Homo sapiens: one gene and its partner. The protein of the gene in region 2 purifies or fractionates together with the protein of the main gene of each other region. This does not show direct contact. Each region holds a gene or a part of one and is shown on either strand. Other genes may lie near its edges. The genes, in order: DHODH and SDHC.

Evidence for each region.
Region 1: the proteins of SDHC (region 2) and DHODH purify together in Homo sapiens (affinity purification with mass spectrometry; one large-scale study listed by BioGRID and IntAct). This does not show direct contact.

The regions. Positions count from the first base shown.
Region 1 is NC_000016.10:72,007,213-72,011,631, reverse strand, and holds the start of DHODH (dihydroorotate dehydrogenase (quinone), mitochondrial), read right to left. Parts: upstream 2,889-4,419; 5' UTR 2,868-2,888; coding exon 2,847-2,867; exon of another isoform or gene 2,723-2,846; intron 1-2,722. UniProt on the Homo sapiens protein: Catalyzes the conversion of dihydroorotate to orotate with quinone as electron acceptor. Required for UMP biosynthesis via de novo pathway.
Region 2 is NC_000001.11:161,352,329-161,356,143, reverse strand, and holds part of SDHC (succinate dehydrogenase cytochrome b560 subunit, mitochondrial isoform 1 precursor), read right to left. Parts: intron 1-3,815. UniProt on the Homo sapiens protein: Membrane-anchoring subunit of succinate dehydrogenase (SDH) that is involved in complex II of the mitochondrial electron transport chain and is responsible for transferring electrons from succinate to ubiquinone (coenzyme Q).

The DNA of each region.
Region 1 (4,419 bases), on a different chromosome or scaffold from region 2:
AAATTATCCGTTCATATTATCTAAGCCAAACTATATTTTACCACATAAACACAAACTGTCTTTCCTGACCTCCTGGTCTCAAGCAATCCTCCCCTCCTCAGCCTCCCCAAGTAACTGGGACCACAGGCACATGCCACCAAGCCCAGCCAATTTTTTGAAGAGATAGAGCCTCTTTATGTTGCCCAGGCTGGTCTTGAACCCTTAGGCTCAAGCAGTACTCCTGCTTTGGCCTCCCAAAGTGCTGGGATTACAGGCATGAGCCACCGTGCCCAGCCTCTACATGGTTTTCACATACAGTACAAATATCTTGTAAATTGAGGGACAACTGTACAGTTTCACATAGAACATTCCCAAGAATTGTTCACCATTTCAGAAAATCTCATCGGGAATGGTACAGTGCTTTCCTGGGGTGCCTGATATGTAACACACCTGTGTACCTGCATTTCTAAGTAGAGACTTAAACACAACTATCTCACTAGGGGAGTCATAGCAATATTTACATACTGAAATACATGTAATTTTATTATTAATATAAACTACTTTTACATTTTCTCCTTTATATTCCAGTTAGGGTATTAATTATGCTGGCTTTTAAAAATTGCACATAGCTGGACTTGGTGGCTCATGCTTGTAATCCCGGCACTTTGGGAGGCTGAAGTGGGAGGACTGCTTGAGCTCAGGCGCTTGAGACCAGCCTGGGGAACATAGTGAGACCCCGTCTCTACAAAATATAAAAAATTAGCCAGGCATGGTGGTGCGCCTGCGGTCTCAGCTACTTGGGAGGCAGAAGTGGGTGGATCCCTTGAGCCCAGGAGGTCCAGGCTGCAGTGAGCCGGGATGACACCACTGCACTCCACCTGGGCGACAGAGTCAGACTCTCTCAAAAATGTATACATACAAAGACATTATACATATATTCCATTTCAAGGTAACGGGGGTGTAAAATATAAAACAGAAGCTTCAGATCTTATTGGATCAAAAGTGGTTCACAATGCTTTTCTCTATCACTGCCACATGCTGAGTTATTCATTCATTAGTTCAGTCATTCATCAAATACTGATTGAGCAAAGATGACAAAACAGATCTTGCCCCTACCCTCATGGAGAGTGTGATCTTATGAAGCGACAGACAGAAATTAATGATCATGCAAATATGTAGTCATAGCAACTGTGATGAAGGATAAAAAGTATAAGGTAATGGAAGTATTCAACCTAATCTTAGAGGTAAGGAAAGGCTTCCTTAAGGAAATGACTTAAAGCTGATACTCAAGGGATAAACGAGTTGATGGGGGTCTCTCTGAACCTATTCTGGTTCAATTATTTAAAAAAATAGTTAACCAGAAGGCAGTACGGAGAGGAAAAAGTGTAAAGGCTCTCTCAGTAGCAGAAGAGAATGAAAAAGGGAGAAAGTTTGGAACAGAGGAGTGAGGGAAAGTAAGGCTTAAGACGAGGCAGGAGAAAGGAGCAGGAGTCTTGGCCAAAATAAAGATTTGGGTTTTGTTCCCTAAGCCAGGAAATGACATGATTAGATTTGCTTTTAAGGATCCTTCCAAACTGCTAAAGACATGTAGATCAAGTATTCATTGGCTGGGCGCGGTAGCCCACGCCTGTAATCCCACCACTTTGGGAGGCTGAGGCGGGAAGATCCCTTGAGGCCAATAGTTCTAGACCAGCCTGGGCAACACAGTGAGATCCCATCTCTCTCCATTTATTTATTTTAAAAAGAGACTCAGGCCGAGCGCGGTGGCTCACGCCAGTAATCCCAGCACTTTGGGAGGCTCACGAGGTGAGGAGTTCGAGACCAGCCTGACCAACATGGTGAAACTGCAGTCTCTACTAAAAATACCAAAATTAGCCAGTCGTGGTGGCGCGCGCCTGTAATCTCAGCTACGCAGGAGGCCGAGGCAGGAAAATCGGTTGAACCCGGGAGGCGGAGGTTGCAGTGAGCCAAGATCGCGCCACTGCACTCCAGCCTGGGCGACAGCCCAAGACTCCGTCTCAAATAAACATATAAAAAGAAAGTCAAGGTTATTCATTGCCTCCCTTGGAGACTGTACTCCCCCCCACCATGTCAATCAACAAATATCTGAACACCTATTTTTTTTTTTTTTTTTTTTTTTTTTGAGACGGAGTCTCGCTCTGTCGCCCAGGCCGGACTGCGGACTGCAGTGGCGCAATCTCGGCTCACTGCAAGCTCCGCTTCCCGGGTTCACGCCATTCTCCTGCCTCAGCCTCCCGAGTAGCTGGGACTACAGGCGCCCGCCACCGCGCCCGGCTAATTTTTTGTATTTTTAGTAGAGACGGGGTTTCACCTTGTTAGCCAGGATGGTCTCGATCTCCTGACCTCATGATCCACCCGCCTCGGCCTCCCAAAGTGCTGGGATTACAGGCGTGAGCCACCGCGCCCGGCCTCTGAACACCTATTACATACGGGGATACAGCTAAGAACTTTTCACAGAGACCCCCGCCCCTAACAAAACTTTACCTAAAAGGGTTGGGAGCATGTCCTACTCTAGTTTCATTCCCCGTTGGATCCGGCACACAACGCTAGGCGGTCATGTGTTCACTAAGCACCCCTGTGCCAGGCTCAAAAACATGGCCCAGGCGCAGACACTCAGATCAGCACCCACCCAGACCTGCAGGCGCTGTCTGCACACGCCTGACCGAGTCCACGTGCAAATGCACACGCACGAGCATTTGCAGGAGACCCCGGAAACACGCACACGTCCCAGGGGGGCCCACACTCCCGGAGCCGCCTTCGGTCCATGCCTCGCCCGGCCTGACTCTCCGTTCTCGCCCTCCCCGGTCCCTGGTCCCCCATCCACACTGCTCACTCGCGGGACTCACTTTCAGGTGTCTCCACGCCATGCTCCTTCCGTCATTAAGCCCGCCCCTGTCTCCCTTCCATTGGAGGAGATGGTGGCGGCCCCTCTTGTCTCCGCCCCTTAGCCGCCAACCCACCAGTCGCCGGGCAGAAGGGTTGAGAGGACGCCTCCGCGCAGCGGGGAAGGCCCGGCACCACCCCCAGGTTCTGGTTGGGTGCACGTGCGCAGTAGCGGCGGCCACGCCTCTTCCGCCCGCCCTCTCCCAGCCTGCCCGCTTGATCGCCGGCTGTTGGCGGAGATGAGATGCCGCTGCACGGTGTTTGTCCGTACTACCGCAGCCTCGAATCCAAGAGTCCGCGAGCATCAAAACACTGTGTTTCACACCAGAAATATTTGTACAGTTTTTATCACTTTAAAAAATAAATTTTACTGCTGTGTTGATATAAAGATGAATATGTTAATATATAAACTTTTTCAACTTAAAAGTTGATTTTTCTTAAGGTTTTTTAAGGAAATTAAAACATTTTCTTGAGGCCGGGCATGGTGGCTCACGCCTGTAGTCCCAGCACTTTGGGAGGCTGAGGCAGGCAGATCACTTGAGGTCAGGAGTTCGAGACCTGGTCAACACCCAAAACCCCGTGTCTACTAAAAAATAAAATAAAATACAAAAATTAGCCGGGCGTAGTGGCAGGCGCCTGTAATCCCAGGTACTCGGGAGGCTGAGGCAGGAGAATCGCTTGAACCCAGAAGGTGGAGGTTGCAGTGAGCCGAGATAGCACCACTGCACTCCAGCCTGGGCGACAAAGCAAGACTCTGTCTCAAAAACAAACAAAGAAAAATAACCAAAAAAAAAAAATTTCTTGAGATCCTAAAAGTGTCAGAGGCCCTTCCCTGGCCCTGCGCCTGTTGTGCCTCCTGGAGAAAGTGGCCCTGGTTATACCTTGGCATTGTGGTGCAACAGATGTGGAGGTATTTTTTTAAATACTGTTTCTAATCAAGACCCTGAGTGTGCAGGCCCGTTGGAGTGTGGTTTACTGCGGTGATTTTTTTTTTTTTTTTTTTTTTTTTTTGACAGAGTCTTGCTCTGTTGCCCAGGCTGCAGTGCAGTGGCGCGATCTCGGCTCACTACAAGCTCCGCCTCCCGGGTTCACGCCATTCTCCTGCGTCAGCCTCCCGAGTAGCTGGGACTACAGGCGCCCGCAACCATGCCCGGCTCATTGTTTTGTATTTTAGAGACGGGGTTTCACCGTGTTAGCCAGGATGGTACTGCGGTGATTTATGACGACCTAATGTGTCACTTTGTAGTCCTCTGAAGCAATCGTGCCCTCACGAAGAATTTTGAAATGTCTTACCTAATGATGTCCTGGCCGTTGGAGAATAGCCTCTGTAGACTTAGGTGTCAACAGCATTAATCAGATACTTATTGTTTGGAGGCTCTACACCCATCCGTGTCATTTTTGTCCAGTTGCAGTGTTCCCGCCATCAGCTGAAATAGCTGGGTTATTGTCGTAGCAGAAATTAGAGCAAAAGAAAGGTGTATGAAATATCTTGAGTCAAGCCATTTTTGAGCTTCATCAGTTGTATGAAGCTATCAA
Region 2 (3,815 bases):
AACATCCGTCTCTATAAAAACTTCACTTGCCAGTTTAGACATCAAGCCTTGCTATATCATCTAGTTCATCATCTAACTAAGAAAAGGTAAAAACAGTGTACTCAGTCCAGAGAAGAGTCAGAAAAAAAATTAGGTTCTCTTTTTTTTTTTTTTTTTTTTGAGACAGAGTCTCGCTCTGTTGCCCAGGCTAGAGTGCAGTAAGCGTGATCTCAGCTCACTGCAACCTCCGCCTCCTGGGTTCAAGCCATTCTTGTGCCTCAGCCTCCCAGGTAGCTGGCCTTATAGATGCATGCCACCATGCCTCGCTAATTTTTGCATTTTTAGTAGAGACAGGGTTTTGCCATGTTGGCCAGGCTGGTCTCAAACTCCTGGCCTCAAGTGATTCGCCCACCTCAGCCTCCCAAAGCGCTGGGATTACCAGCATGAGCCACTGCGCCTGGCCCTTTTTTTATCTTTATCTTCTAGTGTTGCTACCTCTGAAGAGAGGAAAAATTTTAAATCATTCAAATCTCTATTACACAAAAATTTAAATTAAAATGAATTAGAGACCTAAATGCTAGAACTAAAACTATAAAACTCTTAGTAGAAAGCATAGAAATAAATCTTCATGATCTTGGATTAGGCAGTGGTTTCACAGATGACACCAAAATCATAAATGACAAAAGAAAAAACAGATGAATTGGATTTCATCAAAATTACTAACTTTTGTGCTGCAAATAATACCATCAAGAAAGTGAAAAGACAACTCAAAGGAATGGGAGAAAATATTTGCAAATCATGGAGGACTTTTATCCAGAATACATAAAAAACTCTTACAACTCAATCAATAAAATGACAAATGGATCTGAATAGACATCTTTCCAAGGACGATAAATAAATGGCCAATCAGTGCATGAACAGGTGCTTAACATCATTAGCCATTAGACAAATGCAAATCAAAACCATAATGATATAATGTAACTGCTATGTGTATATACTTGGAAGATTATTTCCCTATGTGAAAGAAAAAGTATGAATATTTTAATGTCTGACAGGGCTGCATTATCTGTTGGAGCTCAGTGGCTATCGACCACCAATGACTGAGAAATCAAGTATAACAAATATGAAACTCAAATTAGAAATAAGATGTTATCTTGGCTGGCACGGTGGCTCATGCCTGTAATCCCAACACTTTGGGAGGCCAAGGTGGGCAGATTATTTGTGGTGAGGAGTTCAAGACCAGCCTGGGCAACATGGTGAAACCCCATCTCTACTAAAAATACAAAAATGAGCCAGTTGTGGTGGCGCACACCTGTAGTCCCAGCTACTCAGGAGGCTGAGGCAGGAGAAACTCTTGAACCTGGGAGGTGGAGGTTGCAGGAAGCTGAGATCGCACCACTGCACTCCAGCCTGGGCAACAGAGTGAGGCGTGAGGCTCCATCTCAAATGACAAAACACACACACACACACACACACACACACACACACACACACACACACAAAGAAATAAGACATCATCTGTAAAATGGGAATTAAAAAAAAAAAAAGAAAAAAAGAAGAGGCCAGTTGTTTCCCATAATCACCAAAAAATATTTTGGGGAAGCAAAAAAGAGTACCCACATCACAACTCCCAGAGACCCTGATTTGATAGTTTGGGATCATTGCTAGAACTGTGGTTTCCAAACTACACCAAGCTGCCCTGGGGTACCAAAGCAAACTCACAGGTCCTACAGGATATTTTACATATTCAAATGAAACACAGTGATACTTAACATCTGTTGGTCATCATGTGAACCACTACTAGCTCAAGGTAGTTCAGTTTCAACATTAGATGTTAGATTTCTTTCAATGATCACATCTTTGCAAAGCTGGGTTTTCAGCAAAAATGAAGTACTGTGTGAAAATCACTGTGGAACAAGAAATGAGGGTGGCAGTATCCAATCTGATTTCTAAGGTTGGAGGAGTTGTATAATATCCAACAGCATATACATCCTATTAGTAAGTAATTATGATTGGCTGGGTATGGTGGCTCATGCCTGTAATCCTAGCAATTTAGGAGGCTGAGGTGGGAGGATTACTCGGGCCCAGGAATTCAAGACCAGCCTGGGCAACATAATGAGACCCTGTCTCTACTAAAAATAAGACAAAAAATAAAAACAAAAATAAAAAATATTAGCCAGGCACAAAGTGAGCTGTGATTGTGCTACTGCACTCCAGCCCAGGTAACAGAGTGAGATCTTGTTTCAAAAACAAACAAACAAAAAAGTATGATTATTTAAGAATGAAATAAAAATATTTTTTTCTTTCCATTTATGTGGATGATTTTGTTTTTGCTTTTGTTTTTCATAGAGACGGGGTCTTGCTATGTTGCTCAGGCTGGTCTCTAACTCCTGGGCTCAAGCGATCCTTCTGCCTTGGCCTCCCAAAGCACTGGGATTATAGTTGTCAGCCACTGTGCCCAGCCTATGTGGATGATTTTTTTTAAAAAATGTCTACTCAATGGCTAAGAAATAAATAAGCTGTTTGGATCTAACAAACTAATAAAACAAAAGTGTTAGGTATTTACCTTGACTTAGGAGCACCATGAAAATAATTACTGAAGACACTGAGGTAAACCTGAACTCAAACAGTTTGATGAACATTTGGGAGGAAGATATGACTCAAGAGGGTTCAGAGTCTTTGACACTCTGGATAGATGATAAGCTATTATAGAAGACTGCAGGAACCCCTCTTTTGGTAGTTTTGATAGGAAATTCAAAACTATCTTTTGAATTTCAGTGCCAGCACAAAGCTCTGAAACTTCAATAGCCAAATATATGCCTTAGATATCTGGGCAAACTCATCCCTGATCTATGCATCAAATAGGACAACAGGCTCACAGCTGAGTCCCAGGGATGGCCACCCACACCAATATTAACCAACAGAAAACCAGACCCTGATATGGTGTTATCCTAGGATAACACCACCTACTCTCAAATGACCTACGAGAGTCAAAACTCTTGGAAATACTAGGATGTGAATAACAGTGTCTTCAGCTTTTGTTTTCCTATGAATAATACAGAATTATGTCAATTAGTTTAATCAATTCAAAAAGAGAAGACTGCCTCTAAATAAGTCAAATGTTCTCAAAATCATTCTACTACTACATACCCCCACACCAATTTTTTCTTTTTTCTTTTTTTTTCTTTGAGACGGAGTCTCGCTCTGTCGCCCAGACTGGAGTGCGGTGGCACGATCTCAGCTGACTGCAACCTCCGCCTCCCAGGTTCAAGCAATTCTCCTGCCTCAGCCTCCCGAGTAGCTGGGACTACGGGTGTGTGCCACCACGCCCGGCTAATTTTTTTGTATTTTTAGTAGAGACGAGGTTTCACTACATTAGCCAGGCTGGTCTCAAACTCCTGACCTCAGGTGATCCACTCGCCTTGGCCTCCCACCCACCTCGGCCACTTCAGTTTCTTAAGCTCTTAAATGAAGATACTCCTGTTTCTCAGATTATTATGAGGGTTAAATAATTATGTAAATGTTTAGTAAATAATGGCTATAGCAATAGTTGTATTTGAATTAGGTATTTTTCTGATGGGTTGAGTCCTTAAACAAAAAACATAAAATGATACAGTCTCTGGATATACATAGAATACTGGTTATTTCTGACTGGCGGGATTATGGGCAACTTTTCTAAGTATACATTTGTATAATATTTTCATTCTTGGTAATATGTTCTTGTAATCAGGAAAAATTTTTTTTTATACAAATCTCTGGGAGGTCAAGGAGATCTGGGATCATTACCAGATTCCAAGCCAGATATAATCAGGAGAGAGATCATTTTGGCTGGCTGC